Regions from separate parts of the Homo sapiens genome. Here regions 2, 3 and 4 are each linked to region 1. The links come from fine-mapping of genetic effects on gene expression. A gene starts in region 1. Each other region holds a variant in brackets. All regions are shown on one strand. Distances are from middle to middle.

What was found. PIP is the estimated chance that this variant, and not a neighbour inherited with it, causes the effect. A credible set is the group of variants that fine-mapping cannot tell apart.
Region 2: its variant is the best candidate, but not a certain one, in a credible set for the expression of DNAJC13 in blood mononuclear cells (TOPMed, PIP 0.60).
Region 3: its variant is the best candidate, but not a certain one, in a credible set for the expression of DNAJC13 in coronary artery (GTEx, PIP 0.61).
Region 4: its variant is the best candidate, but not a certain one, in a credible set for the expression of DNAJC13 in blood mononuclear cells (TOPMed, PIP 0.89).

The regions. Positions count from the first base shown.
Region 1 is chr3:132,414,415-132,422,287 of GRCh38, reverse strand. It overlaps DNAJC13 (DnaJ heat shock protein family (Hsp40) member C13), which reads right to left and starts at 4,786. Exons shown (of 56, transcript NM_015268.4): 1 at 4,528-4,786. RefSeq lists enhancers at 3,922-4,457, 4,397-4,546 and silencers at 4,577-4,716, 4,997-5,096.
Region 2 is chr3:132,465,555-132,473,427 of GRCh38, reverse strand. It overlaps DNAJC13 (DnaJ heat shock protein family (Hsp40) member C13), which reads right to left. Exons shown (of 56, transcript NM_015268.4): 18 at 7,358-7,433; 19 at 7,034-7,129; 20 at 6,115-6,258; 21 at 201-283. Among named protein-coding and RNA genes, the nearest start is that of DNAJC13, 52 kb to the right of the region's middle. RefSeq lists an enhancer at 862-1,389. The variant T/C (reference allele first, on the strand shown) is at 4,109.
Region 3 is chr3:132,552,617-132,560,489 of GRCh38, reverse strand. ACAD11 (acyl-CoA dehydrogenase family member 11) reads left to right here. Exons shown (of 20, transcript NM_032169.5): 19 at 548-657; 20 at 1,405-2,349. The coding sequence ends at 1,519. NPHP3-ACAD11 (NPHP3-ACAD11 readthrough (NMD candidate)) reads left to right here. Exons shown (of 45, transcript NR_037804.1): 44 at 548-657; 45 at 1,405-2,352. LOC124909436 (a long non-coding RNA gene) reads right to left here. Exons shown (of 2, transcript XR_007096094.1): 2 at 6,834-7,873. Among named protein-coding and RNA genes, the nearest start is that of ACKR4, 41 kb to the left of the region's middle. The variant T/C (reference allele first, on the strand shown) is at 4,821.
Region 4 is chr3:132,495,471-132,503,343 of GRCh38, reverse strand. DNAJC13 (DnaJ heat shock protein family (Hsp40) member C13) reads right to left here. Exons shown (of 56, transcript NM_015268.4): 36 at 6,681-6,816; 37 at 4,034-4,218; 38 at 3,536-3,610; 39 at 2,431-2,550; 40 at 876-1,055; 41 at 1-130. Among named protein-coding and RNA genes, the nearest start is that of DNAJC13, 82 kb to the right of the region's middle. The variant T/AT (reference allele first, on the strand shown) is at 3,747.

The DNA.
Region 1 (7,873 bases):
AGGTGGGAGGATTGCTTGAGCTCAGGAGTTTGAGACTAGCCTGGGCAACATAGTGAGACCTCGTCTCTACTAAAAATAATAATAATAAAAAAAAGTTAGCTGGGCATGGCGTGCCTATGGCTCCAGATACTAAGGAGGCTAAGGTGGGAGGATCGCTTGAGCCCAGGAGATCAGGGCTACAGTGAGCTATGATCGTGTCACTGCATTCCAGCCTGGGCAACAGAGTGAGGTCTGAAAAAAGAAAAAAAAAAAGGAAAAAGAAAAAAGTCCAGAAGTCCAAATGCTTAGTTGGTTAGTCATGTAGGCAAAAACCTATTTATAATGAATGAATCCCAGACTCTAATTGTTTTATATATAACTCACCAAGTACATTTTGCAGGGTTTAATATACAGAGATTTTTCCAGGAATGTGGCTGCAATGTAAATTAAGAGATTATACTTTATTAACCCTGTTCTTTTCTGACAATGCTAATAATCTCAATTGTGGTATTTGAGTCACCAATGTGACAAATCTGTAGACATCAACATTTCTGTCAAAAATCAAAATGGGCCAGGCATGGTGGCTCACACCTGTAATCCCAGCACTTTGGGAGGCCTGGGTGGGTGGATCACTTGAGGTCAGGAGTTCGAGACCAGCCTGGGCAACATGGTGAAACTCTGTCTCCTAAAAATACAGAAAAAAAAAAAAATCAGCCCAGCATGGTGGCAAGCGCCTGTAGTCCCAGCTACTCAGGAGGCTGAGGCAGAGGTTGCAGTGAGCCAAGATCGTGCCACTGCACTCCAGCCTGGGTGACAGAGCAAGATTGTCTCTCACACACACAAAAAAAATCTCAAAATGATTCCATGTAAAGATACAAGCCTCTGACACGTCCTTTGTGTATTTTGGTATAATCATACTTAACTATTTACATATTGAAATGCATATAGTCAATTCTGCTATAATGCTTTCTTGATCATGTGAATTTTAACAGGATTGGTGTATTACTGAACAATTTGAGCATAATGAAAATGTCACATTTGCTTATAGTGATTCTGTCCCAACACTAAGTGAACGCAGAAAATTGTACCCAACTGAGTCATGCAGGAATTCACAAAATACACACACACACTTCAGGTGGTCAATGAACCACATACATTCACATATATGTTACTAATTTTCCACTCCATCTTATAACTTTTTTTCCTTCTACTACTTCACAGTAATTCAGAAACTATAACTCCATCCAATGCTCACTGCATTGTTTGCTCAAACTTTTTCAAGGCAAAATGTCATTATTATAGTATTTAACATGTACAAAACAGTTCTTTTTAAGCTCCTATCTTTTTAAAAAATGTATAATGATGACTGCTCTTTCTCTTGGGAGTTTTTTTCATGGGCCTCATAATTTTTGGTTAAAAGCTGGACATGTTGTGTAGGAGTAGAGATTGAGGTAATTTTTATGACTGGAAATGAGCACGCCTGTTCTTTGTGAGGCCTTTGGTGAAGGGTTTGTGTTAATCTGGTTAGGAGTTGGACTTAGTTTATGATTTGTTTTTGCCATAGTTATCCTCAGTGTATTACAGCCTTCATGAATCTGCAGAACAGTTTGTCTCTCTGGTGGGCGATGGTTTACTAGAGCAATGCCTGTTTGATTCTTTGTGTTGTGCCTCTTTGCATAATCTTGTTCCTTTCCTAGTAGTATTTTGTGGGTTACTTGTTACTGAAAGCTTCTTAGCTTGGTGGCAGGGGGTTGGGGGTGGGGGATACAGTCTGATGTTCTGATTAAGTCTAAGTCAAACACTGTGTTCCTGAATCTCAGGAGGGCAGCACTCTCGGTTCTGTTGACCACTCCCGACTGCAGTTTTGGGCTCAGGGCCCCTCCTCCAGGCATAAGATTCTCTCCCACTTCTCATCTACCCCCTGAATGTTCACCAATGGGGCCAACAGAGATACCCTTCTCCCCAGAGATTAAAGCTTTTTTCCATAGAAGAGGCAGAGGGGAAGAATCACAGCAGTTTCTTGACCCTCTTAAAAGTTCTGTTGCTGTTCCTCTCCCTCTCAATCTGCACAGCAGACTCACCCAGGGTTCTTTCCAGTCTTTTCTAGTAGACCCAGGGAGGTTTGTGGATAAGAGTTTGCAAGATTGTGCATTCAGCTTTCATCATGCTTTTTGTCCAGTTGTGTCTGAAGACGGTAAACAGAAATTGACATCTACTCTCTGTAAGCACTGTCTCTCAAATTTTCAGCCAGTGGTTTTGCTCTGTGGACTCAGCTCTTTAATAGATTTCAAAAAAGTCATGAATTTGTAGTGTAGGTCTTTTTTTGTTGCAGAAGTGAGAGCAAAGCTTCTTTTTTTGTCTCAGGGCCAAAGCCAGAGGTAGTTACATTATTTATAAACTAAAGATAGCAAAGAAGGTGTTACTAATTATTTTTTATAAAAAGGGAGCCTTTATTGGGTCTAATAAAGTTGAGAAACACTGACTCAAGGAACTCTTTCAAAATATTAATAACTCCCCTTTAACTACTGCCATGTTTTACAGTGAACATTTAGGCCAAAACCTATTTGTAGCAACCAAATTTGTGCTGCAGTTTATCTGCACAGCCTTGTTTCAATTACTAATTTAAAGTACCTCAATCAGAAGCAGGGGAAAGGTATGTGTAGCAGAAACCTCATATTCACCTGTGTAAACAGAACTGGTTGAGGAATGAAGCCAAATTAGTTAAAACACATCTTTTCAATTTCAACCCTAATTTGGGACCTATTGAGAACCGGACTCCACTATCAACCTTTTAACAAATTTAATAAAGCCAGTATTGTTACAGTCCACCTGGGCAAGGCAACCATCTTCTATTTATTTGTGGATAAAGTTAAATTATTCCAAACAATTCATTCACTTATTAATATTTTATTTTTTAGCTTAAGTATTTTGTTTACAACTAAGCTTGTTAACAATATATAACATTAATATATTTTAGACTATTTATTACTACCACTTTAGAAAAAGAGGAATATTCATTGCCTCTCAGTGGAATACAAATGCTGATATTTTCCATGAACTGAACTCTAGCCTTAAGGTTCTTTACATTCTTATTTCTTAATAATCCTCTGACTCCTCTTTTCCTCCCTTAATATGTTCTACTTCCTGTTTTCAAACAAGGAGTATAATGTAATAATTTCTACACAAGGACGTGTGTTGCCTGAATGCATTGTGATACTAACAGCACAAGCCAAGTCTGAGATATAGTAGCTTAAAAAGCGTTTCACATTACACAAAATGTGAACAAGGTTTTACGTTATATGATAGATAAGCCAATAAAGTACTTTCCAAAAATCAAAGAACTGTGTTCTGGATACCGAATTTCTGACAAGTGGTTTCTATAAATTTATTTTTTTAAGGCAAATTCTGTTTCATACTCCCATAAACTCAAAGTACTGGTAATATATTATAAAACCTTATCACTGTAATTTTCCCTGCAGGCAGTAGTTTCAAACCTAGAAACCTATCAAGTCCATAAACTGAGAAAGAAAATATAGTAAGAAAGAATTACTGGGGGCAGGTTCTGAACTTCTACTTTTTTCCCCAAGACACTGTATTACAAAAGGCTCAACATAACTGTACACTATAAAGCCCTTCATAGAGGACGCAACAGCATCAGGTACAGAACCTCCTTTTTGAGGGAAATCAGAATAACGTAAAAGGGAAAAGCAGAGGGAAAATGAGAAATAATTACTTTGGGAGACCACCGCCACATTAGGGTGAAATCTTTACTTTTTTCCCCCCTCTAAGCAACGGACACAGGAAACAATCTTAAGACAAACGTGGTTAACGGAACACGCTACAAAAGGAGAAAATTTAAGGGAAGGCACTCTTAAACATAGTTAAGTATCAAGTGATTAACAGCCACTTCACTGAGCGTCTAAGTCCTACTTTACCCACTCCAAAGGCCACATTCAAAGATAAAATCACAGCAGCGGAGGAAAGGCCACGTGAATAAGCTGCCTTGCAGGAAGGAAAAGCCTTAGGGGAGAAAATGATTTTAGAAAAAGTACTGGAGAACAGACGACGCGGATGCTCATTTCCTAACAAAACGAAACAAAGCAAAGAAAGTCAGTCTGCAGGACTTGTTCGGAAGGAGGGTCGCTGACCCAAGGAAACAAGAGTTGCCGGCATCCAGCAGGAAGGGTGCTCAGACTAGGAGACTGGAAGGGAATCCCGAGGGCGGAACCCACAAGGGAATGAAGAGCCTGTGGGGTAAGGATATGTTAAGGCGAGTGGAGGAGCGTACTAGGTATAAAACAAGCAAAAAAAAGGGGTGGGGCTGGACAGGGCAGCGCCCTGAGCTAATGTCACTCAAAGCCGGGGGGGCGTCCAACGAAAGGAACCAGACCAGCAGCCTGGGGGAAGGGTAATCTGCTTCCTTAGCAGCTGCAGGCTGCAGCAGCCAAGACCACCCCGTTTTCCCTGCCCTGAGCCCCACAAAGTCCCCACGGCGTGGGAAGGGAGTAAGGCAGAGCCCCAGAGCCCAGTGCCCGGAGTCGGCTTTACCTTCGCGGGAGGCTGGAGAGGCTCCAGCCCTAGCTCCTCCCGCCGCCGGCTCAGCTTCCAGAGTGGGATGAGGCGCCCTCCGGCCTCCTCACCCTCACCACTTCCCCTTTCCCCCGCCGGGGCCCTGCAGCTCCGCTGCCGCGGGTTCCTGGTGCCGCCGCGGCGCTGCCTCCCCGCCCCCTCCGCCTCCTCCCTCTGCCTCTCAGAGTTTCACTCTGGAGGCCGCCATCTTCGCTCAGGCTTTGAGCGAGCGCGCTCTAATACGCCTGCGTCGCCACCGCCCAGGCTGTCACGAGACCCAGTCAGCTGATTTCAACTCTTCCGTCTTCTGCCCCGCCCTCCCCGTCCTCCCCGTCCCGATCGTTCTTTCCCTGAAATTCTGCTTTCCTCCGGCCAGCCCCCAGCAGCTACACATGCGCAGAGTAACGACACCGGCCGTGGGATTTGGATTCCACGCAGCGCGTCAGGGGGCTGGCGCCTCGGTGGGTGCTGAAAAGGACACGCCCCTGGGCGCGCGCGGGTGCCCATGACCACGCCCCTCCGGCGGGTGCCCATGACCACGCCCCTCCGGCGTGTGCCTTAGGGCCGCGCCCCTCCGCTTATGTCCTGCGGAGAGTAGGGTCGCAACCCGGTACTTAAGCTTTAAGTCCGAGGAAATCTTGTTTTAAATCACCTCTTTTTAGCTCTTGCCGTCAAGTGCCATGGAGCATCTGCGAGGCAGTCTGAAGCCTCAGCCTATCTCCTGGTTTGGCTGGATTGGGAGCCAGCAGGTTCATTTACTATTGAGACGTCCTGAACGACAGCAGAGCAGGGTTTAAGTTATGGATGCTCTGGAAGGTCTCAGAGACCAAATTCTCAGAGACGCCTAAGGCATTTGCAGGTGGGAATGCTGGAAAGATAGTTCTGGTAGCCCCATTTATTGTGTCCGGATCAAGTGTTTAGAAGTTTACTTAAAGCTGCTTAATCTTCAACTCTCTGAGATACGAATCATCCTCGTTTTGCAGATAAGTTGAGGCCCAGCCTCAGAGTAGTGGATTTCATGTTTGCACCCAAGTAATTTGAACCCAGAACCTGTGCCCTCTAGATAACCATCTTCCTGAACCTCACCTGAGAGGGAAGTCAGGGCAGTGAAAAGAGGGGATATTGGGACTAAAGGATTCGGCTAGAAATTATGTGTTATCTGTGGGCAATGGTTTAAATAAGAAAGGTCAATGTCCACTCCCAGATCTGAGCCGTAAAGACCACAGTTTAAAAATTAGTGATTAAAAAAAAAATAGTGATTCTGCTGCAGACTTCAGAGTAGAGGCAGTGTAGGGTGACCTGCATGGATACATTATTGTATAAGGGTTAAAGGTCTCTGATAAGGAGTTGAATACTCATTCTTCATGGCAGTCCTGAAATTGTGATTTCTTGGCGTCCCCTTCAGCAAGTTGGCTCATTTTATAGACAGCGATTGCAGGATGAAAAAATGTGGAAAAATGGTTTTTACAGACTTTACCTCTTGATTCTATTAACCCTTTGCCCTACCTTAGGGCGGAAAAAGACTATTTGTGTTTATCCTTAGACTTTTCTGTAATGCAGCAGTAAGATAAGGTGCATGTAAGGGAAGGTACTAGGAATAGCTGGGTGTGGGAAGACAGAACCCGAAATAGAGTAGGAAGGGAGGAGGAGGAAAAAGAAACAGGAGGGCTGTGTTAAGGGGCCTTATTGGCTTATCCCATGGAAACAGAAACGTGTTTATGTGGTTACAAAGCCTTCCAGTAATCCCAAAAGTAAATGTGGGGTATATTATTTCGATTTTAGAGAAGCAGCAGACCCAGAGAGTCCAGGAGACTTGCTAAAGGTGACCTAACTCCTAAAGGTTGAGCCAAGATTAAGACACAGGGCCTGCCTGTAACATCAAGGCCAGTGAACTGTTCAACCTCCACACTGCCTCTCTGTTCAATATTTGAGACCAATAAAATCAATTCTCGTGTTGAGAGGAGCCTTAGGCATCATGAATTGTCCCCATCCTCTGTAGTGCAAAATTGCCTCACAAGACATCTTTTTCCATTGCATTTTTATAAGCCATTTTCCTTGTATTCAGCCAACTTGCACTCTCTTCTATGAGTAGTTATTTTGTCTTTGTTTCTTGCTCTTTTCTTCTTGTATGTGACATTCATTTAAGCACTTATCAGTACAGCTTATCACCCTTTCCCACTCCCTCTCCCGTGCATATCCTTCTAACTACCCCTGCTACAGATACTCATTTTAAGAAACCATATTCAAAGTACTTTCAACCATTGTTCACAAGATGTAGTTTCAAGCCTTTTCACAACCACTGGTTGCTTTTAATTGGATCCATACAATTGGATCCTTCTTAAAATGCCACAACAAAATACAAGAGTCAGGGAGAGTAGGACTTGTCTCTTCTTTCCCTATTAGGTTAAATCAGTTGGATCCTTTCCCCACCCAACTCTTTTTTAAGAGTGACAAATGCACACTTCTTTTTCTGGATTTGTCTTTTTATTCATAATTAAAGTTTGCACTAGCGTTTCTGACACTTTCATAGTGCAGATGTATCAAATTTACAATCTAAATTATGTGATGTACACTTAAAATATTTCACAGCTTTTTAAAAAATACATTTCACAGCCTTTTAGGCACCAATAGCCTTTATCAGTCTCCAAAGTTAGCATACAAGGCTGGAGTGATCTAAGACTTTAGAGAGCCCACAAGAATGTCAAACACTTGCTTATCTAATTCCCATTGCTGCTAAATTGACCTTCCTAATTATATCAATGCCCAGATCCAAAGTAAATCCTTAAGAACTCATACCACTCAACAATGCTTGAACTATGTTTTCAGTACAGTAGCCACTAGCCCTATGTGGCTACTGAACACAGAATAAAAATTAAAATTGTTACAAAAAAATGTAAAATGTTGCATTAGCAATTTTTATATTGATTACACGTGTTAAAAGAAAAAAATATTTAGGCCGGGCACGGTGGCTCACGCCTGTAGTCCCAGCACTTTGGGAGGCTGAGGCGGGTGGATCACCTGAGGTCAGGAGTTTGAGACCAGCTTGGCCAACATGATGAAACCCCGTCTCTACTAAATATAAAAAAATTAGGCGGGCCTGGTGGTGCATACCTGTAATCCCAGCTATTCGGGATGCTGAGGCAGGAGAATCACTTGAACCTGGGAGGGGGAGGTTGCAGTGAGCCGAGATGGTGCCACTGCACTCCAGCCTGGGCAACAAGAGTGAAACTCTCAAAAAAAAAAAAAGTATTATTTAATGATACTTGTTAAAGCTTGGTAATAGGCTGAGCATGATGGCTGACACCTGTAATCCCAAGGCTTTGGG
Region 2 (7,873 bases), 51 kb before region 1:
TCAGACTATCACTCTATGAAAAGCCTTAATTTTAGGAGCATCTCTAGTCACCCCAATCTTAACAGTTATAGTTCCTGAACTTGATGGCATAAAAATACATGTGGCATAAAGCAACAGTTTCAGGGAAGAAGAACGTGTCATGATGCCTCTCATGGCAATACTAAATTTAATCTTTATTGGAAAAGAGACCTAAAGTTTACCTATAATAGAAGAGATCCCAATTTGCTTCTATTTTTATTCTTTGTCTTCTCTTTCGAAGAACCACTGGCTTCTGATTTATATTCTGGAACAGAAAAAAACTTCATAGTGCTCAATCTGGGGCTACCAAATAGGCTTAGTCAGAAGATCATCAATTTATACGTGATGAGAAACATTTCTTTCATCAAATTTTGACAGAAACAAAAATTAACGGAATAAATAAAATCTATAAAACATGAATATAAATACAGGATATTAAATTATATCACATATAATAATTTGACAGCATATATTTCTATAGTTACTCAAGTATTTTCCATGTAGCCTAAAGCTGTTTCAACACCAAATTTTGTTAAAGTTTACAGTGATTAATAAAATTTAAAATAGTCAAAAACAGTGACTTGTTTCAAACATTTACATGCAGTTAACACAAAAGCCTTGGGACAACAATAAATGCAAAAGATTACAGGTTGTTAAAGTGCTACCAAAGCCAAGAGGAGCAAGTACAAATTGAAATAGCTAATGGAGAAGAAATGTGTCTACATTCAAACACATGTGAAGTTAAGACTTGAATTTATTAAACAGAGAATATCAAAGATGACTCCACATGCCAGGCAGCTTAATGCATTTCACACACGTAGCAGGAACTTACACTCACCATATTGTTTTTGTCCTGAATTTAATCGTAAAAAGGAAAAAAAGTTAAAGAAAATAAAAAGAGAATGAGCCTAGATCTGCTAAATTATATCTATTACACATCAATACAAAATTATCTTTACTTTAAGACTAAAATAGGTGCACCTGCTTCTCTAAGCCTGTGACTCAAATTTTAGGCAGTCATAAACCCTTTGAGAATTCAAAGAAAGCTATGGCCCCTGTTTCAGAGATAGGCACATACTTAAGGCTGCAACTGGAAGAGAAGATTTCAAGAATTCTTAAAGTCTGTACATGGACCAGAGGTTAAGAATCTCTGCTCCAGCCCTCTCCCTCTGTCTCCCTCTCCCCACGGTCTCCCTCTCATGCGGAGCCGAAGCTGGACTGTACTGCTGCCATCTCGGCTCACTGCAACCTCCCTGCCTGATTCTCCTGCCTCAGCCTGCCGAGTGCCTGCCATTGCAGGCACGCGCCGCCACGCCTGACTGGTTTTGGTGGAGACGGGGTTTCGCTGTGTTGGCCGGGCCGGTCTCCAGCCCCTAACCGCGAGTGATCCCGCCAACCTCAGCCTCCCGAGGTGCCGGGATTGCAGACGGAGTCTCGTTCACTCAGTGCTCAATGGTGCCCAGGCTGGAGTGCAGTGGCGTGATCTCGGCTCACTACAACCTACACCTCCCAGCCGCCTGCCTTGGCCTCCCAAAGTGCCGAGATTGCAGCCTCTGCCCGGCCGCCACCCCGTCTGGGAAGTGATGACCGTCTCTGCCTGGCCGCCCATCGTCTGGGATGTGAGGAGCCCCTCTGCCTGGCTGCCCAGTCTGGAAAGTGAGGAGCGTCTCCGCCCGGCCGCCATCCCATCTAGGAAGTGAGGAGCGCCTCTTCCCAGCCGCCATCACATCTAGGAAGTGAGGAGCGTCTCTGCCCGGCCGCCCATCGTCTGAGATGTGGGGAGCGCCTCTGCCCTGCCGCCCCATCTGGGATGTGAGGAGTGCCTCTGCCCGGCCGAGACCCCATCTGGGAGGTGAGGAGCGTCTCTGCCCGGCCGCCCCGTCTGAGAAGTGAGGAGACCCTCTGCCTGGCAACCACCCCGTCTGAGAAGTGAGGAGCCCCTCCGCCTGGCAGCTGCCCCGTCTGAGAAGTGAGGAGCCTCTCCGCCCGGCAGCCACCCCATCTGGGAAGTGAGGAGCATCTCCGCCCGGCAGCCACCCCGTCCGGGAGGGAGGTGGGGGGGGGTCAACCCCCCGCCCGGCCAGCCGCCCCGTCCGGGAGGGAGGTGGGGGGTCAGCCCCCCCGACCGGCCAGCCGTGCCATCCGGGAGGGAGGTGGGGGGGTCAGCCCCCCGCCCGGCCAGCCGCCCCGTCCGGGAGGTGAGGGGTGCCTCTGCCCGGCCGCCCCTACTGGGAAGTGAGGAGCCCCTCAGCCGGGCCAGCCACCCCGTCCAGGAGGGAGATGGGGGGGTCAGCCCCCCCACCCGGCCAGCCGCCCCGTCCGGGAGGGAGGTGGGGGGGTAAGCCCCCCGCCTGGCCAGCCGCCCCGTCCGGGAGGGAGGTGGGGGGGTCAGCCCTCCGCCCGGCCAGCCGCCCCGTCCGGGAGGTGAGGGGCGCCTCTGCCCGGCCGCCCCTACTGGGAAGTGAGGAGCCCCTCTGCCCGGCCAGCCGCCCCGTCCGGGAGGGAGGTGGGGGGGTCAGCCCCCCGCCCGGCCGGCCGCCCTGTCCGGGAGGGAGGTGGGGGGATCAGCCCCCCGCCTGGCCAGCCGCCCTGTCCAGGAGGGAGGTGGGGGGGTCAGCCCTCCGCCCGGCCAGCCGCCCCGTCTGGGAGGTGAGGGGCGCCTCTGCCCGGCCGCCCCTACTGGGAAGTGAGGAGCCCCTCTGCCCGGCCAGCCGCCCCGTCCGGGAGGGAGGTGGGGGTGTCGGCCCCCCGCCCGGCCAGCCGCCCCGTCCGGGAGGGAGGTGGGGGGGTCAGCCCCCCCGCCCGGCCAGCCGCCCCGTCCGGGAGGTGAGGGGCGCCTCTGCCCGGCCGCCCCTACTGGGAAGTGAGGAGCCCCTCTGCCCGGCCACCACCCCGTCTGGGAGGTGTGCCCAACAGCTCATTGAGAACGGGCCAGGATGACAATGGCGGCTTTGTGGAATAGAAAGGCAGGAAAGGTGGGGAAAAGATTGAGAAATCGGATGGTTGCCGTGTCTGTGTAGAAAGAAGTAGACATGGGAGACTTTTCATTTTGTTCTGCACTAAGAAAAATTCCTCTGCCTTGGGATCCTGTTGATCTGTGACCTTACCCCCAACCCTGTGCTCTCTGAAACATGTGCTGTGTCCACTCAGGGTTAAATGGATTAAGGGCGGTGCAAGATGTGCTTTGTTAAACAGATGCTTGAAGACAGCATGCTCGTTAAGAGTCATCACCAATCCCTAATCTCAAGTAATCAGGGACACAAACACTGCGGAAGGCCGCAGGGTCCTCTGCCTAGGAAAACCAGAGACCTTTGTTCACTTGTTTATCTGCTGACCTTCCCTCCACTATTGTCCCATGACCCTGCCAAATCCCCCTCTGTGAGAAACACCCAAGAATTATCAATAAAAAAATAAATTAAAAAAAAAAAAAAAAAAAAAAAAAAAAAGAATCTCTGCTCCAAATGAAACCCATGTATATACATCAGATATGAAAACTCTAATCCTCATTGTGATAGAAACAAAAAGTAGAAAGTGGTATAGATTAAAACACGGAAGTCTGTAATTTCATTAAAGTGCAAAAAAACCCCAGACTAGACGACATAGAAAGAAAAAAGGTAAAATAAATTTTAAAAGATATTATTTCAAATATAAACCCTAAAAGTTATATAAGAAAATGTTTCCTACAAATTTTAATTCTGTGCACTATCATGAAAACTAATGCAAAGTGGCTTGAATAAAATATATAAATAATTCAAAATTTGGTTTAATGACAAATCTTTTCCTAAACTTTCTAATTAAGAAGTACTTTCTTCAATCCCTCCTCCCCGCCAGGACAAAAGGCTGGCAGTCCAGAGTAATAAAAATGTAAATGCTATACAGAAAAAGGACAAAAAGCTCTCCATAAACTAAGTGACTGAATTGGAGACTCAGGCTAACAGCTCTAACTAGCTAAACAAATCCCTTAACTGAAAATAACAAAGAAAAAGCAACCTTATACATTAGCCAAAGGTTACTACTAATCCAGCACAGAGCATCAGCTGCAAATGGAACTGACTTCATAAACATTGACTATATAAGAAATGCAGATTGT[T/C]TCAAGAATCGCCAGTTAATCTTGACAATGATTAGTTTTCAGACTCTAACTACAGCATAAGATCATTCCAAACTTTGATGTTAGTGTTTCTATTAATAAAATAGTCACAAAGATTATTTGCTGTTCCCTAAAGAAATTACTGTTAAAAATAGTACCCACGCAGAAAGGGGATAAGCCATTGATGCTAACCAAAAGATCTTCTTGACCAACATTTATCTGGCATCATTATTTGCTCAAAACTTTAGTAATACCCCATGTAAATGATACCAACAAACCAGTAAAACTTTTATATTAAAAATATCCTTTTCCCTCTCAATTGTTTTAAAATAGCAGATTTTTATCCATAGTTTTAGCTAAGACTAGAGCTTTGTGTTCATGCTTATGCTGGATAAATGTTACATATGAAGTCTGATGCCAAAAACTTATCTACAGTATGATAATTATATTCAACAGCTTGAAAGAACTGTTATTTTAGAAATCGGTTTAACTACCTGAAGCCAGGAGCTTGTAATTTTTAATAACTGTGAAAATCATTCATATCTGTAGATTTTTCAACTGTTCAAATGCTATACCAGTATTATCCTGACCATATATGTATATAGTGCCTTTACTATTATTTTGCTTGTATATCAAAAAAACCCTATAAGATAGAGAAGGGAGGTATTGTTATTCCGATTTATGAAAGAGGAAAGTAAGGTTCTAAAAACCGTAACTTGGATTAACAAGTGATGAAACTAGGCTCAGAAGTTAACCAACTCAAAGTTCAGTATTCTCTTTACTATACTACATAGTCACTTGAAAGCCTAATGATTCTTTATATTGAATATATCACTTATATAAATTAGCAGTAATCTATTATTCTGGAGCTCTAAAGAATTGAACATTGATCCCAATTTCAGATAGATACACAAGACTATAATATTTGTTCTGCTATGCTTACGTATTCTGGTAATCCATAAGAAACCCACTTGTTTTAGAAAGATATTAAAGTTATTTTCCTTGAATATGGCAATAGCTACCATAAGTAAGGAGAAGATTAAGGAGAAACAATGTATGTGTGATCAACAAAAACTGAGATCAAGATTGCTTCTACAGGACATCTCAATTCATACTCAACCACTGCCAAACCCATTATAGATAGAAGAATGCATTACTGAATCAGGTTCTGTAGAACACACTGCATGCTGAAGAATGAGACTAAAACTGTTTTAGATCTAACTTTGATTTGAGAAACAAATATTACAAAATTTAAGTACGCACAATAAATTGAATTTAAAATGTGAATCTTAATCTCCAAAACACTTGTCTGGCTAGTTCTGAATAAAAAGGCTAACAGGAAGAGCACCTTTATTTTTATAGGTGCAAAACAAAGTCCAGAGAAGAAGGGAAGAAAATAAATACATATGAATAAAAAAGAACAAAAACTGGAATGGAAGAAAAATTAAGAGTGGAATTCTATATTAAATACCAAAATAAAAACCTAATCATCAACTCATAAAACTATGAACTAAGGAAAATGTATACAAAAATATGAATTAGAAATTAGGTACCATTCGGCCGGGTGCGGTGGCTCACGCCTGTAATCCCAGCACTTTGGGAGGCTGAGGCAGGCGGATCACGAGGTCAGGAGATTGAGACCATCCTGGCTAACACGGTGAAACCCCATCTCTACTAAAAATACAAAAAATTAGCCGGGCGTGGTGGCGGGTGCCTGTAGTCCCAGCTACTCGGGAGGCTGAGGCAGGAGAATGGCGTGAACCCAGGAGGCGGAGCTTGCAGTGAGACGAGATCGCTCCACTGCACTCCAGCCTGTGCAACAGAGCAAGGCTCTGTCTCAAAATAAATAAATAAATAAAATAAAAAAGAAAGAAATTAGGTACCATTCATTTTTAAGCTTCAGGTATTCAGCAAGAAATGTATCGATACCATCTCTGTGAACAGCAGGAACTAAAGTAGACTAGGACACACAGAAGTGCCAGGAATTTGGAAGCAAATTTTATTTTTACCTCTTTTTGAGCAATGCCCATCCTATCCCTCCAGTGCATCAATACAAGATCCACTTTTTCTTTGGCAAATTTTTCAACTTCTTTAGCAGCTTTTCCAGCTAGTCTTTGCCACTCTGGAACTTTATTAAATTTTCCATACTGATCCTGTAAAATAATGTTGGAATCCATTACATGCCTGTTTGCAAATTTATTTTAAAACTCTATGTAAAGCTGAGTCATTCTATCTATTTTATAAGGTTAATGCTGGATGTTATGGTTCAGTGAAGAAACAAACTGAAAACTTCTACAATTATACTTTTTATCCAAGAAACTAACTTTTCTACTTAGGTTTCAAGATGATTCTTTTATGAGGGGTGGCAAGATGCAAGTGGGAGCTGGGTGCAGACAGAGAAGGAGTGATGACAGAAAAAGAATACACGTAAGAAATTATTATAGTAGTGTATCATAAAGATGTTTAATTTTTCCATGGATGGCCCAACCTTATAATTAACATAGATCTTGTAAGGAAAAAAACCCTACCTATAACTTTTTTCATGGTTGGCCGTTTTTACCAACAACATTTATCAATCTCATATGTGCAAAATACCATATTTACACACTTACTGGTACTCCAGAACGTACCAATAAGTTGAATTAGAGAAACAAAACACAGAATAAAATGACCACTATTCATAACATTAATTTGTGGTGATAGCTGCACAACTCTGTAAATATACCACAAATTATTTAATTGTATACCTTAAAAAGATGAATATTATGGGATGTAAATTTTACCTCAATAAAGATATCAATAGTTAAGTATACTATTCAATGCAATGAATTCTTTGTTTCTAAAATTTTTAACGTGTTTCAAAAAAAGACATATATATAACAGTACCCTTACTCCTAAAAAAGGCACACTTGGGACAGTCATATTTACCATTGCTATTTTCACATTGTCTCTAACATGCATCCGATCAGCATCCTTCTCAGGTACGAGATCTGAGCTTTCCAAGTATGCCAGCAAGCCTGGCGGCTAAAAACACAAAATCCATTTTCAAAACAATGTGAAAAAGAAAATTTAGCCTTAAAAACCCAAATAAATTAATACTGTGGCTTAGCTATTGAGGGTAAAACTTTACGGTAACTCCTATGATAAATAACTTTTCAATAAAAAACAAACCATCCCCTTTTAACAGTACAGATAACTTGTTCAATTAAATTTTATTAGGCAGTATATAACCTAATTTCTCAACTGACTTACCAAAATGCGTTTCAACAAGTTTGTTGCAGTTGCATTATCAGCTGTCCAGAGTCCCACTAAATGTCTACTTAGCTGTCTGAAAAAAGCAGACGTTGAGAAAGGTTTGCTGCTTTATCTCAGCTAGAACAGAAAGGAATTTTTAAGAACAAAATATCACATAATTATAAAAAATACGGCTACAGTAAAAAAATCATTCCGATGTTAAAAATAGTTATTAAAAAATTTAATGTGGAGAGTTATAATTCAAATATTACTAATATTTTGGAATTTTCTAAAAATTAAAATGTTTTCCTAATAAACATACACTCATTTTCAATAAACCCGAACAGGAAAAAAGTAGGTTTTTATCCCACTTAAAGGAAGAAAAAAAACAACAAAAACAATTAGATTTGATGACACAATTAATTTGTTTAACCAGTCCTACTAATATAGTGACAATGGCATCCTGGCATTTTTTGGAATTCTGAACAAGCAGAAGTCAACAACTGTTCTAATATAACCGTTTTGGCAAGATCA
Region 3 (7,873 bases), 140 kb before region 1:
AGCTATGATCACACCTGGGAATAGCCACTCCACTCTATTCTGGGTGACAGAGTGAGAGCCTGTCTCAAATAACAAAACAAAAAATGCACAGCATGATACTGCTACATAGTAAATGTTTCATGAAAGAGACCTCTCATCCTTTGCTTTCTTATGTTTCTGGATTATATGAAATAAAGACATAATCATTTAATTCTAAAAGCCCATAAAACTGCTAAAAGAAACCTGATTAATAGCGCAAAGACCCTTGGACTATTTTTATGATCCCTAAGGTGATGAGTGTGATTTATCAGCTGCCTGAAATCCTTTTGGAAACAAGACAAGTTAGAAATAAATGGATAAAATGTGATTTGGAAGAGGTGTCTCTTTCCAGAGGGTCTGTATTGACTGAAATATGGCATTGCAGCAGGATCTCTTTGTTGGCTTTTGTTAAAGATCCTGTTTTAGTGGTGACTTGGATGTGGGAAAGTTTCCTTGTTTCATTTCCCAGTTTTGCCACATTGTGTATAGTCTAAGAAAGAAGCATTCTTTTCATATTTTGCTTATATAGATTGCAATGATCAAAGTGGCTGCCCCACGGGCTGTCAGCAAAATCGTTGACTGGGCCATCCAGGTGTGCGGAGGTGCTGGTGTTTCCCAGGATTACCCTCTGGCTAACATGTGAGTAGATGTCATTTAAGAATCATCTACGTTTGATAGGCGTGGAGGTAAAAAATCTACAGATGCCTTGACATTAATTGCTTATGTTTATTTTCAGTGTAATTGAAGGCTAAATGAAGTGATATACATTAATATAGAGCTCAACACCAAGAAATAGTTGCTCTTATTATTACAATAATCATTTCATTCCATTATGTTAATTTTTACACTGAGGGGTCCCACTGAGGATTCCTGGGCTGTAGATACAGCATGGGGTTTCGCTGAATTTGTAGCAGGACATGTCAGTGACTATCTAATATATAGATCCTGATGACTGGGAGGCAGAAAGGAACATTCTCCATTCCCCATCTGTCCATCTCCACACATAATTACAGTGTCACCTTCTCTATCACAATGGAGATAGAGTCTCATCCTTCATCAATTTTAAACCTTAAGAAAGAACTAAATATATAGTATCATACCAGTCACTGCCTGTTCTAAGTTCTAGCAACATGTAGTAAACTGTAGCAAACCAAGAATGAGATGAACTCCACTGTACTTTGGCATTTAACTTTCCCAAGTTGGAAACTTTAAGATGGCATTGCAGAAGCCCTTTAGCTTATTTTCCTGGTACCCTTTTTCTTACCCTGACCTTGGTGGAATTTAAGAATTAATATAGTCTTGGTTGACAATCAGAGTGACTGATGTCAAAGTATCATGTTCCTCTTCCATAACTCCCTGTGTTCCCTGATTCTTTTGCTTTTTCAGGTATGCTATAACCCGAGTTTTGCGTTTAGCAGATGGACCTGACGAAGTTCATCTTTCAGCAATCGCAACAATGGAGCTGCGGGACCAAGCCAAAAGACTGACAGCCAAGATATAAGGAGGGTGGCACTGCCACATCCCACTGGCAGAAACTCTCCTTTATACAAACTTCATTGGCTCCAACATTTGAATCTCATATTTTTGTAGCAGTTTGAGCACAGGGTTAATTATTCATTTGTGGTAAAGATTATAGCATCTATTTTGATCAGTGGGTTTTATTATTTCAAGGGTCACACAGGGTTAAGTTCAGTAAGAAATGCTGTAGCTGTTGTCATTCAATCTAGTGCCTCCTTGAGGCCAGGAGTTCAGGACCAGCCTGGGCAACATAGCGAGACCCCCATTGCTACAAAAAATTTAAAAATGAAACAAGTGTGGTGGCACATGCTTGTAGTCCTAGCTACTTGGGAGGCTGAGGCAGGAGGATTGCTTGAGTCTAGGAGTTTGAGGTTACAGTAAGCTGTGATCGTGACATGGCCTCCAGCCTGGGTGACCGAGTGAGACTGTTTCTAAAAATAAAAACAAAAAATAAATTTCTTCTTGAGGTGGGGTGGAGGTGGGGAGCAAGAATTTGACCTGGCTCTGATCCCTGGTGTGTTGTGTGGGCCTCTTTAACGTTTGCCACTGAGCCTTAACCTCACTGTACTTCACTGTACTTCACACGCATTGGTGTTAACATTTTAATCTTAGAAGACCCTGACCCACTGAGGGTTTGTTGTGAGAATTGCTGAAGCCACGTAGAAGCACCTTGAAATCTGTAAAACCACAAGAAAGTACTTTATAAAAGGTATCCTTATTTGAAGTGGATAAATCTTGTAACTCGAAAAGTTGTGATTTAGAAGACAGGATTGTTTTTGAACATTAGGAATTAAAGGCTATATCTGGTCCTTACAATTTTGTAATTTGTTTCTCTGTCTGAGGAAAGCTGGCTGGATTGGTTGCTGATTTGTTTTAGTTAATCTATTGTCATGTATCTGGCCATCCCTAAGGCAAGTCACTCCATATGATCTATACTTACCTCTCTCCCTTCCCTGAATTTAGTCAGATAAAATTATGTTAAAAAGAACACCAAGGATTGTTTTGAAAAGGAAAAAAGTCTCCAAAGGATAAAGTGAGAAGATCAGTTTCAGGATCAGGGCCCCAGTCCTGGTGAGAGAATGGACCAACGGTAAACTCCTCAGCATTGTGGCCATTTCTAGGGTTCTGTCTCCTTAGGCTGTCACTGGGAGTCACTAGGCAGCCGTTCATCTGGGACAGTCTGCTAGGTTTGCCATGTGCTTGAAACCACATGGTTTTAAAGAGAGAAACTGCCCTTTCTAATAATCAGATGGCAGGGAGGGAGCGGGGAGGAGAGAGCTCACCAGCCAGGGCTCTACCCATGAAAACCCCTCCAAGATTGCCAGGCGGTCAGCGACAGAGCCTCGAGGAGGGGGCCTTGAGACTGCCGGATAGGGAAGACACCATGAGGCTCCCTAGACTGGTCATGGTCTTTCTCCAGCAAAACATTTAGGGTGCACAGGGGGTAGCTATGATTGTCCAGGGGATGAGCTAGTTAAGGGTCTCTGGTAACTGACCTTTTTAACTATAAGAACACACAACAGAAAGTTCAGCGGATTATGGAGGACTGATTTCCTCATCAACCTGTGGTTATTGATAAAAGCTTCTTCAGGGTGGGTCCTGATCACCCCAGCTGTTTCCATACAACTGTGGTTCACTTAGGTGTCATGGGCATGCACACATTTTGTCCAAGGGAAATAAAGTAGGTGAAAAGCAGTTTAGATACTTTAATGGATACATTGGGCAGGGCTTGCCCAAAACTGCTTTTCTCCTTGATCTTGAGTGAAGCTACAACACAGTGTCGGGGAAGTTCAGAAGGCAGGCATTTTTTACTTAGGCTTTCTAAGGGCTTTAAATTCGTAACATTCTTAAATAAAGGATATAAAGTGCAGTGTATTTATGAAAATGTCTGCTATGAAAAATGTCTTATTTCAGTCAAGCCAGGCAGCCCCGCTTGGCTCCTCCCTTTCTCTGACACTAGATGATCCCTCCCCAAGGAGCAGAGGAAAGGGGAGGGGGGAAGACCTCCTGTTGACAGGCTGCTGTTTGTCTGTCACATGTCTTACTCCACCATTTATTTTGCCTGGATTACTCCAGTAGTCTCTTAACTGGAATTCTAATCTATTCTCACAGCAGCCAGGATGACCTCAAATGCTGCGGTGGCTTCCATCTCACCTAGAATAAATTCAGAGTCCTTGCTTTGGCTGACGAGGTTCCATCTGATCTTGTCCTCTGACACTTCTCTGATCTCATCCCCCTGGCTCACTCGCTCCAGCATAGCCTTCTGGCTGCTGTTCCAACATGCGAGCACAGCCATGCCTCTGGGCCGTGGTTCAGACTGTTTTCTCTGCCTGAAAGGATCTACACTGAGGTTTTCCAGATGTCTAGGTCAAAAGGCACATTATTAAAATGTCCTTTCTTGACCATTGCTTGAAACTAGCACCATGACTGGGCGTGGTGGCTCATGCCTGTAATCCCACACTTTGGGAGGCCGAGGCAGGTGGATGACCTGAGGTTAGGAGTTCGAGATCAGCCTGGCCAACATGGTGAAACCCCGTCTCTACTAAAAATACAAAAATTAGCTGGGCATGGTGGTGGATGCCTGTAATCCTAGCTGCTCAGGAGGCTGAGGCAGGAGAACCGCTTGAACCCAGGAGGCAGAGGTTGCAGTGAGCCAAGATTGCACCACTGCACTTCAGCATGGGTGACAGAGCGAGACTCCATCTCAAAAGAAAAAAATTAGCACCACGTGCATTGTTATTCTCCACCTGCTTATCTGCCTTTGTTTTCCCACAGCACTTATCACCTGACATATTTCATGTTTATTTGTGGTCTGCCTTCTCAAGTGCAAGGCCCATTTTTCCCTCCTCTGTTCACTTCTCTCACTTTTGTGTGTGTGTACTGGTGTCTCCTTGGCCCCTAGAACCATGCCTTACATCCAGTAGCCACTCACAAAGCATATGAATGAATGAATGAGTGTGCATGGATGCTCTCCTGATCCCTGGTTTGCAGCACAGCAAGCGGTGAGTGAGCAAAGCATTCATGTATAGGTCTGCCAACAGAACAGAGCCAAAGCCTGAGCCCCAGCCGGTCAACACAGAGGCTGGACAACAAGAAGGGGTTATGGGTAGCTGGAGAAAACCTAAGCCTGAGAAAGGACATCAGTGTCCTGGCAGTGGGGGTGCACAGCAGTTTGGGCAAGTCAGTTGATGGAACAGGTGTTTAATGAGTATTTAACAATCCAGGGAAATACGCATTTCATTTTTTTCTCCTGATGTCTAATCTAGTCTAATCAGCTGGAGGGC[T/C]GTGATCAGCTCTAGGTACAGAGGGAAGTCAGGATGCCTAAAAGAAACAAAACCACTTCTGGTGATTGTTGGAATTTTCCAATTTTCCAAAGAAGCAGGATTCTGGGAAGTGTCCTCCCTAATTCAAGACAGACAAAGAGCACTTAGGATTTATGATCCTGCCGTGATATTTTTATTTCTTTTTCTTTTCAGCACCTCTTTCTCATTGTGGTGATTATGAGTTTATTGTGAAGAAAACCCACGCCCATTCTAGTGTGAGAGTGTAGTTAGCATAAGCTCTGTGAAACAAGGGTTTCTCTCTGCCTTACCTTCACCCCCAAATTATGTGGCCAAGTAAAGTGTAACAGTTTATCCTGGAGAGGTGCATCACTCCTAGGACACCCTAAATAAGTACAGGTGAAATGGAGAGCAGTTGCTTGGATAGGATCTCCAGAAGGTATTTTCCCCAGTCTTCCTTCATCTGATGGCTAATCACCTCGATGAGGAGCCTTTTGTCTCATTTTCTTAAGTGGGTGCAGACACCCCCTCCCTCCAGCACCCTTACCTCTCTGACTTCAGTTTCTACTGCTCTGTTTCCTTACTCTCTCCACACAACACATTGGCCTTCTGCTGTTCCTCCAGTATCCCAGATATATTCCTACTTCAGGGTCTTTGCACTTGCCTTTCTGTTTGCCTAGAAAACTCTCCCCCCACTGCATGTCCTCAAGGCTTGCTCCTTTCCTGCAAATGTAACCTCCCAGGGATTCCTTCTGTAACCATCCCATCTAAATTTCTATACCCTCCCAACACACACACACAACGCTCTTTTTCCCTGCTTTGGTTTTCTTCTTAGAACTTTTCATCGTGTGACATACTATGTATTTTTCTCTTTTCTTTTGCATATTATCTCTTCCTCTCCCCCTGCTAGAAAGTATGTTTTAGCAGAGAAGGGTTCTTGTCTGTTTTGCTCGCTGCCGCATCCCTAGAAGCTGGAGCAATGCCCGGAGCATGCACAATAGGTCCTCAATAAATATTTGTTGAATGCGTGAATGCATGCCAGCTGCAGAAGGGCAGGGAACGCAGGATGTTTGATTAACCTCCATGTGAGAAGTGTAGTAGCATAGGCTCATGTTCCCTCACTTGCCATGCAGACACTTAAAAAGAAAACTTAGGGCCGGGTGCGGTGGCTCATGCCTGTAATCCCAGCACTATGGGAGGCCAAAGTGGGTGGATCACCTGAGGTCAGGAGTTTGAGACCAGCCTAGCCAACATGGCGAAACCCCCGTCTCTACTAAAAATACAAAAATTAGCCGGTGTAGTGGCGGGCGCCTGTAGTCCCAGCTACTCAGGAGACTGAGGCAGGAGAATCACTTGAACCCAGGAGGCAGAGGTTGCAGTGAGCCGAGATTGCGTCACTGCACTCTAGCCTGGGTGACAGAGTGAGACTGTCTCAAAAAAAACAAAAAACAAAAAACTTAAAGCAGTGGTTCTTACCCTGGCTGAGCATCAGAATCACCTGAGCAGCTTGCTATAGCTACAGCTGCCTCAGCCCCAGCCCTGGTGATTATTTAGTAATAACGAGGTTCACCTGGGATTCTAGTGAATTGATGGTCAGGGAAGAGAGAGCCTCGCTTCCTGACAAGTCTTGATTATGTCAGCGTTCTTGGCTGCAAACACTAGGAAAAGACTGGCTAATGTGAGCAAAAAGAAATCTGTTGCATTAGTGTGGGAAGGGAAGACTACGGAATTCTGGAATATCCCGCCAAGACACAGGCAGAGAAGGAAGCAGGTCTTTGCAGCTGGGACCAGAGCAGCCTGACCTGGCCGATGAGAGAGACACCCCTGCATTGGTGATCTCCATCTGACCTTGTCCACCAGATCTCTCTGCCCTTGCCTTGCTTTGGCTCTGAGGTGCACATGGTTGACAAAGCTCAGTCTGCAGGCCTGCCCTCTGTGCTGTGCAGGAAGAGGAGAGTGCTTCCAGTGCTACCAATAGAAATATAAGGTATGTATGTAATTTAAAATTTTACAGTGTCACATTAAAAACACATGAAATTAATTTTATTTAACCTAATATATCCAAATATTATCATTTCTACATGTAATCAATATAGGAAAAATTATCAGTAAGCTATTTTACACTTTTTCCCCAAAATCCCAATATATTTTATAGCACATTTCAACTTGGAAGCTAAAGTTTCAGTGGAAATACTTGATCTTCCAAAAGTTAACTGTATATAAGTAAGCTTCATAAAATGTACAGTTAAAAAAGTAGGTTCACATGCCCAACTTGTTCTAAACATACTTCACAGTTTTCAAAAAACTAAACTCAGTTTTTAAATTTAATTCATTTAAAGTTAAATGAAAAATTCAGGGCCAGGTGCAGTGGCTCACGCCTATAATCCCGGCACTTTGGGAGGCCGAGGTGGGCGGATCACCTGAGCCTAGGAATTTGAGACCAGCCTGGGCAACATGGCCAAACCCCATCTCTACAAAAAATACAAAAATTAGCCGGGTGTGGTTGTGCACGCCTATAGTCCCAGCTACTCAGGAGGCTGCAGTGGGAGCATCACCTGAGCCCAGGCGGCAGAGGTTGCAGTGAGCTGAGATAGTGCCACTGCACTCTGGCCTGGGTGACAGAGCCAGACTTTTTCTCAAAATAAATAATTTTTTTAAAAAAATTCAATCACATTAGCCCGATTTCAGTGCTCAGTAGTCATGTGTGGCTAGTGGCTACTGTATTGGGCCACTCAGCTGTAGCCCCTTGGTCCTCACAGTTTCAGAGGTCACCCTCTCACCAAACTCACACTCAGTGGGGAGAAAAAGACTTGGGACATTATTAGAAATAGAGATGGATGCTGAGCAGCCCCAAACAATTGTCCACTATGATAATTAAGGGAGCATAGTGTGAACCCCAAATACCTGAGACAAGTCTCAGTCAATTTAGAAAGTTTTGTTTTGTTTTGTCTTTTGCCAAGGTTAAGGACATGCCTGTGACACAGCCTCGGGAGGTCCTGACGACATGTGCCCAAGGTGGTTGGGGCACAGTTTGGTTTTATACATTTTAGGGGGAC
Region 4 (7,873 bases), 81 kb before region 1:
AGGGTGTCAGCATGCCAGCTAAGCTTTTCCTTATGGTTGGATTTTCTGGAGTTGCTTGTTCTTCAGCCAAATACCCTCCAAGGCGACTCAGAGCATGGACACTCAGTTTGGCAAGGCTGTTTGCTACCTCCTGTTATAAAAAAAATTAAGTTGTTAAAGTAGATCTGTTATCTTACATAGGTAATACTATAATTTTACAGAATCACACTATATGGAACATATTTAAGGAGTAAAAAGTCAACCAACAAAAGGGTACAAGAGTACCTACCACTGAGGTAAACATCAGAAAGTTTATGTGTTGGGGCTTGTTTTTTATTTATAAGAAGGACCAGGAGAATCTATGTACTAACTTATACCCAATGCAGTATATCTCACAGACAACTGGAAGAAGCACATTTGGTGGTAATGTGGGGAGTAGGGGATAGGTAGGCAGCCCTGCCTGCTAGAAGCACACATTTACAATATGAGCAATAAATGAGAGCACATAGAAGAGACAGAAAAATATCTATAAAAATCAGACAAGTACTCAAGTGTTTAGGGGAGCTAGCCTCAACTGCCTGATGGTAACATTATATTGTCCTGTGTTACACAACCATAATTTTGCCATCATAAAGTTGACTCTGAGTAATTAAGAAATTATTAAATTATGTCCAGTATATGCTATTGCAAATTCCCTTGCCTGGAATCCTTTAAGCATAAGCAATTACAACTAAAAGTTTTGTAAGTAAGTGATTAGGTTTAAAAAGCAAAAAACCTAATTTTCCTGAAAAACAATTTATCTCTGGGGACTCTGGATAGCAGCTTTGGTTTGGATTAGTTTAACACCAACCTAAGGTTTGGGTTCAAATTCAATATTAAAGCAATGTTAAAGTTACCTGCTGGTTTGTTTCTTCACTTTTCTGAATGCCACTCTCTTCTAGTGTGTAGTCATAATTAAACAGAAAACCAAGGAGATACCACAAAATTCCAGCCTGAAATAGGTGTGTCTGTAGCCAGAAATCCACAGCAAAAGAACTGACACATTCTACCCCAAGAGCAGCTACGCGGGGAATACTCTGAGAGAATAAAAATGAGAGCATTAGTTGTTACAGAGTTAAAAAAAAAAAAAAAAGCTCCCAAGAGGAACTGGTTGTGCATGTATGTCAAGCCAACCACGTTATTTTGTAAAATGTTTACCTCTTCTTACATTTTCAATTCCAATTTAAATCTGAATCCTACATCCTTTAAAGCCTAAAATTAAAAGTGACCTCATGACGAGATACCAGAATTACTACCTTTAAGGCTAATGTCAGAAGACTTGGGAATAGTTTCCTGTTTCACTTCTTGTATTTTTAATTTTTAAAAATAGTGACATGGCATCAATAGCAACTTACACGCTAGTGATCTTAAATGTAACGACATATTTTGTGCAGTTGTTAAAAGATTTATTTATGTCAGTTTTTTATTCTGTAATCAAATACTTCTAAGGACATTAAGTAGATATAGTAGAGGAGATATTTTCATCAATTCCCTCACTTCTTGATACTTTAGTACTAGATCAGCATCTCGATCCTGTTTTATTCAAGACAATTCTCACTCTGCCCAGTTATTTAAGACATTTCTCTCTCCCTCCCAGTCATCTATCTCATCTACCCACAGTCAACCTTCCTCAGCAGGTCTGGATTGGGAGGAAATAGTAAGTTCTCAGATCTCTAAAGCCTTTCCCACCAAGCAGTGCCGAACTCTCTAGTTTTCAGGTTTTACATGGCCCTGTTTTTTTTTCTTTTTTTTTTTTGAGACAGAGTCTCACTCTCTTGCCCAGTCTGGAGTGTAGTGGCACAGGCTACCTCTGAAGCATATATCTCAGTCACACTAGCCACAGAAACATAGGGTGTCAGCATGCCAGCTAAACTTTTCCTTATGGTTGAATTTTCTGGAGTTGCTTGTTCTTCAGCCAAATACTCAGCCTCCCGAATACCTAGGATTACAGGCGCATGCCATCATACCCAGCTAATTTTTGTATTTTTTTGTAGACAGGGTTCTGCAGTGTTGGCCAGGCTGGTCTTGAACTCCTGACCTCAAGTGATCTGCCAACCTCGGCTTGCCAAAGTGCTAGGATTACAGACGTGAGCCACCACACCGGGCTGGCCTTTTGCTTTTAAAAGACTTATTTATTACAGGCTTCTCTTTTCTCCCTGCCACTCATTCTAATGTTCAGATGGAACCCACTTCCCTTTAGATGTATCACTTTAGTCTTTTTCTTTGTAGGCCAGCCTAGAAGCAAAGCCTCCATTTACAGCAAGGCTTCTGTGAAAAATGCTTTTAGAAATCCAAATAATTTTACTTACAAATAACTTTGGGAAAACAATGTGCTTATACATTAGGAACTGGCTAGTTGACAAAAAGACACTTTGCTGTCTGTATCTAGAAAGCATTAAAGATTAACCCTACCTTGCCAAAATATAGTACCCGACAGAGATCCTTGATGATGCTAGGCATTTCCGTGATCTTCTCTCGGCATTCCTCAAACTGAGCAGCCACACTGTAGCATTTACTTATGTATCCACACACCTGCAGACAACACAACAGAGCAAAAAAACCAGTAGAGTCACATAGGCATTCCTTATTTAACACATAGAAATCAAACCAGCAGAAATTTGTGAATAATGCTTAATGGTATATACAATGTTCCAAAATTAAACAGAATGTCTTTACTAGATCACTAGTCTTTCTCATTAAGATTTCCTATAAATGCTGGGGTAGTTGGCAAACCACAGCTACTACAACCCATGGGCCAAACTGACCATGGTCTTTGTACTGCCAAAGAGCTAAGAATGGTTTTTAGATTTTTAAAGGGCTGTAAAAAAGTCACAAAAGAAAATGTAACAGAGACTGTATGAAGCCTGAAAGACTCATATATTTACTCCCTGGACCTTTATTTTAGAAGTTTGCTGGCCTCTGGATTAAGGTAATTTTGTATAGTTTATTAACATAGCAGAATATCACAATTCTGTTTACACAACGGACTTCAAAATAGAGGATGGAACTCAACAGCCAGTACTCGTTTTATATTCTGAATTTTGCTGGCATAAGCAAAAGGTCAAATAGAAAGACACGCTCTACAAAGCTCTTAATGAACTCCTGATGAATTTCCTATCTTACAACCTTAAATGTTAAGCCAATTAAAATACTAGAGATAGGAGAGTGAGGGATGGAAGATATGTGAAACAAGAATGGCATTAAGCTGGGTAATGGAAACATATGGGTTCAATAAACTATTCTCTAAGAAAGAAAACGTAAGCCAACAGATCACAAGTGCTTTAGTACAGTTTCTTACAGTGTGATACACAGACCAGCAGCATCAATGACACTTGGAAACTTGTTATAAAAACATACTCTCAGGCCACCACCCCAGACTCACTGAATCAGAAACTTGGGGTGGGGTGGAGCTCAGCAACCTACAGTTTAATGAGCCCTCCAGTTGATTCTCAGATATGTTAAAGTCTGAACCATTGAACTAGTGCAATTTTCTTGGAACCACAGGTTTTAGCCTCACCTGTACTGACATGTCACTTGGTTTACTAGCACGAGTCAAGACAGCCACACAGCGACTAAATGCCTCTTGTAACACCTGCAGAGGAAGAAGTCAGCTATTAACTCTCCATTTTGACTTCAAGTCTGAAAGGCCTTTTCTAGCAGTAATAAAATATAAATAACCCTTTAATGTTAAATATTTGATACATAAATGTTTGATCAACATTTGTTAA[T/AT]AAATAGTAAACAAAGGACTCCTAAAAGTTTCCTTTTAAGCATTTCTAATAAGCTACTTTGTAAACAATATTACCATTATCGGTTTTGAACCCAATACTTTCCAACTCACATTGTGAAATAAAGCTCCATTTCTACCTTTAATTTGGTATAAGAATATGGAAAATATTGTGTTATCTGCTGAAATAAATTAAAGAATCTGCATTTGTACTTGCTGAATTCTTCACTGCCAAGAGTCATATAATGTGTGTAAACTGGCTTAAAAAGCACAAAGGTCACTCCGTATTACCTCTAGTCCATTCTCTCTTCTGAGCTCTTCAGCATTGAGGGCTGAACAGTTGACAGTATGGAAAGCTAGCTCTGTAGCCGCAGGCAACAATGGTGATTCTTTTGAGAAAAGGAGGTCATCTGAAGTTTCCATTGTTATAGTCCGAATAAGCATGGGGTATCCTGCATATTTATAAGGCTGTAAATCTGAAATAACCAATGGTTAGTGTTAGAAAAACAAAACAAAATTGATTATGTTGTGGTTTCAATTTTGATACCATGTTCAAGAATATGTTGCCTTAAAAAAATAAAAATGGGGCCAGGCATGGTGGCTCATGCCTGTAATCCCAGCACTTTGGGAGGCCAAGGTGGGTGGATCACGAGGTCAGGAGATTGAGACCATCCTGGCTAACACAGTGAAACCCTTTCTCTACTAAAAACACAAAAAAGTTAGCCGGGTGTGGTGGCAGGCACCTGTAGTCCCAGCTACTCGGGAGGCTGAGGCAGGAGAAAGGTGTGAACCCGGGAGGTGGAGCTTGCAGTGAGTGGAGATGGCACCACTGCACTCCAGCCTGGGCGACAGGGCAAGCCTCCGTCTCAAAAAAAATAAAAATAAAATAAAATAAAACGTAAAAAAAAAGATAAAATATTTTATCTTAACATCTTAAATGCCTCCTAATGCCAGTTGATAAAAAAAGAAATTAAACCTACTATAAAATCCCTTGGATCCTTCCTTTCTAGTAAACTTGGTTGATTTTTCTAAAATGTTTCCACTAGAAAAATAACATTTTCTGGTAAATTAACTGCACTTGGTGTATAGTTTTGATCCTTTGCAGAATACCTACTTTCTATGCTGATCTTTGTAACTTTTCACCTCATCACAGAACGCAAGGTACAGCAAATGCACCAGAAATTCTATTAATATCAATTATATGCACATCTTTATAAAGAAAAAAGACTGAGAAGACATTTACATGACACTGAATATTTTATATTAAGTTTTCTGGATAACAAGTGCCCTTGTTTATCTATTTTACCAGTATCTATTTTACCAGTTATCTTAAAGATAACTGGTATCTATTTTACCAGTTATCTTAAAGTTTTACCAGTATTTTCTTAAATTTGAAAATAATACAATTTCTTACTAGAAGTACAAAACAGAAAGTTAACTTTTAAACTACATTTAGTTAATTCCATGTTTTAATAACCAAATTTAAAAGTGAAAGCTAGTAAACCTACATGCCTAATTACTCTGTTCTTTCCATCTTCTTTTTTCAATCTAACCTATTAGGCAAAGAGATGCAAATTAATTGGCTGTGACTTTAAAAGTATCTCTATAATTCCAATTGAAATCAGCATAAATCTTTTTGACTTTTGAGGCTGACCAATAATCTGCCTTAAAACTCATTTCTAAACTGGCTTTTAAAAAAAAGGCCCCCTGGAACAGGTCCTAATTTTCCTTTAAAAAAAAAAAAAGTGACACATACGTAATAAGAAAGAACAGTGAATAACTAAGTCCTGTCAGATCAGGACCTCCACCTCAGAGCTTCTTGGGTATAAACCCCTCTTGGGAAAAGTTAAAGATGACCTTGATAACAGAGAAACCAGGATGGGCCATAACTGTATCTTGTGGCTAATAATTTAGTTATCAGCATTAAAAGACAACCAAGGGTTTTGAAAAAGGTTTCCAAACTCATTCTGATTAGTAAAAGCCATATATCTAAAATGTATTATAAACGTATTCTGTTAAACTCATGTAAAAGTAAATCAACTAATCACTGCTCTCTTTAATAATCCAACTGCTAGATCCTCAGGTTGTCCCCTCCAATACTTAAACTGCAACACCATCTCTTGTCTTTAGTTACCCAACACTCTCCATGCTTATCTCAAATCCTGAAAGTCCTCTTCCTTCTCTCCCAACATACCATAGCAAATGGCTCTCCCACTTTGTGCTGTAAGTCAAGTTCAGTTCCCAAGCCATTGGGCATCTGCCATATTGAACCTAACCCCTCATCCCCAACAAAGGGGGATGTTTTGAACATACTCCTGGCTTTCTGACTGCTACTGTTAGGGCTACTGCAAATGGCCCCACAAACACTGGATAATCCTGTAATCTGAAATTACACCTATTTCATCTATACCAGTGTTCTTCAAACTGTCCCACAGGACTAGAGGGTCCTGAGAGCTACAATAGGAAATAGAACGTATGAGAAGTATATCATCATTTGAAAAGTTTCTACTGCTTTTAAAAAATCTGAATGCTCTTGGTGTTTTTAACCTTCAGAGGCTTTTAAAGTTATGATAGGCTTTCATATGCCATTTAAGAAAACATGAAATGATCTTTAAATTCCAGATTCCATTCTGTCTCATTTAACACGTTGCTACTAAATGGCTAAACACAAAAACTAACCAAGTAACTCCACAGAGCGAAGATGTCAGAAATGCAAAATACTGAAAAACATAGTTATGAAGGGAAAGATATAAAACAAATATTTGGGCCCTTCTTTAGAAAACTACATTTTCCTTTATTTAAAACATAATTCCAAGAATCTTTTAAACAATAATTCTAAATCTATTAAATATGCTGTAGAAACAGGTAATATGGTATAGGGTTAGCTGTGATAAGGTTAGCTGGAGGATAAATTAAAATCTGAGAACAGACATCTTACCTTCTTTATGACGGTTGAAGAGGATGCTCTGTGTTTTTAGAATTAAAATTATATTCTCTGGATCTGGCCCATCCACTATTTTTGCTGATTTGGTACATAAAAATTCATATGCTTTATTTACTTTTTCAAACATGTCCTGTATGTAACAGAAGATAATTTAACGTTAATTTGGAATGTCGCAAAATTCAACTTAAACAAGACATATGGTTTGCATTTTATCAGTAACTTTAGCTATTATTTTATTGTTTATATTAAGGTATTCATTCCAACTGTAATCTAGCTGGTATACTGTTAAGGTGAAATTTTTTTTTCAAATAGTTGTCTAATGATCTCAATACCATTTACTGAAAATTCTTCAAATAAGAATATTAAATGTATCCTTAAATACATCATGTTAAACTCATACATACTAGAGAGAGTTTGCGTCTATATAACAAAAATTATGAGCTACTGTTTATTAAGCACTGTGCTAAATGCCATAATCTCACTTAATCCTCAAACAGCCATGTAAAGTGTGTACCATTATCATCCTCATTTTTTACATGAGGATGCTGCAACTTAGAGATAGTAACCTGGTTAAGGACACAAAATCAACTGGTGGCAGAGCTAAGAGGTACTCCTAACTCCATGCTCTTAAACTGTTACACTGTATGTTCAGTTATCTATATGTAGATTCTTGTGTCAGTATCATATTGTTTTACTATTGTAGCTTTATGAAGTGTTTTAATATCTGATAAGTCTAGCAATTTAAAAGATTTCAAAATTTCTTCCATTCTTATTTTTTCTCCTAGATGAATTTGAATTAGTATCAGGTTCTCAAAAAAACCCCTAGGGTTTTTATTAAAAATACCTTAAACATATGAAAGTCAGATCTTTTCAATGTCATGTCTTCTCATTCAGGAATACTGTCTCTGTTCTGTTTCCAGTGAAAACAGAAATCAGTGGAAATTATTCCAAGTTTCTAGCAATAGACTATCAGTCCTGGTTTAGGTGGTTCTTACGTGATTTCATCGTTTATGAAACATCATTGGATGAGGTGGCATCAGGGAATGATGATTTAAAATCTGAACTAAATTTTCTGTTTCTTCAGTTACAGTGATATGAAATTGGATGTCATTGGAAAAAATTACATAAATTGCCCAAAGCAATCTGAATAGCAATGGTATCACCTAAAACCTACAAATGAATTAAGC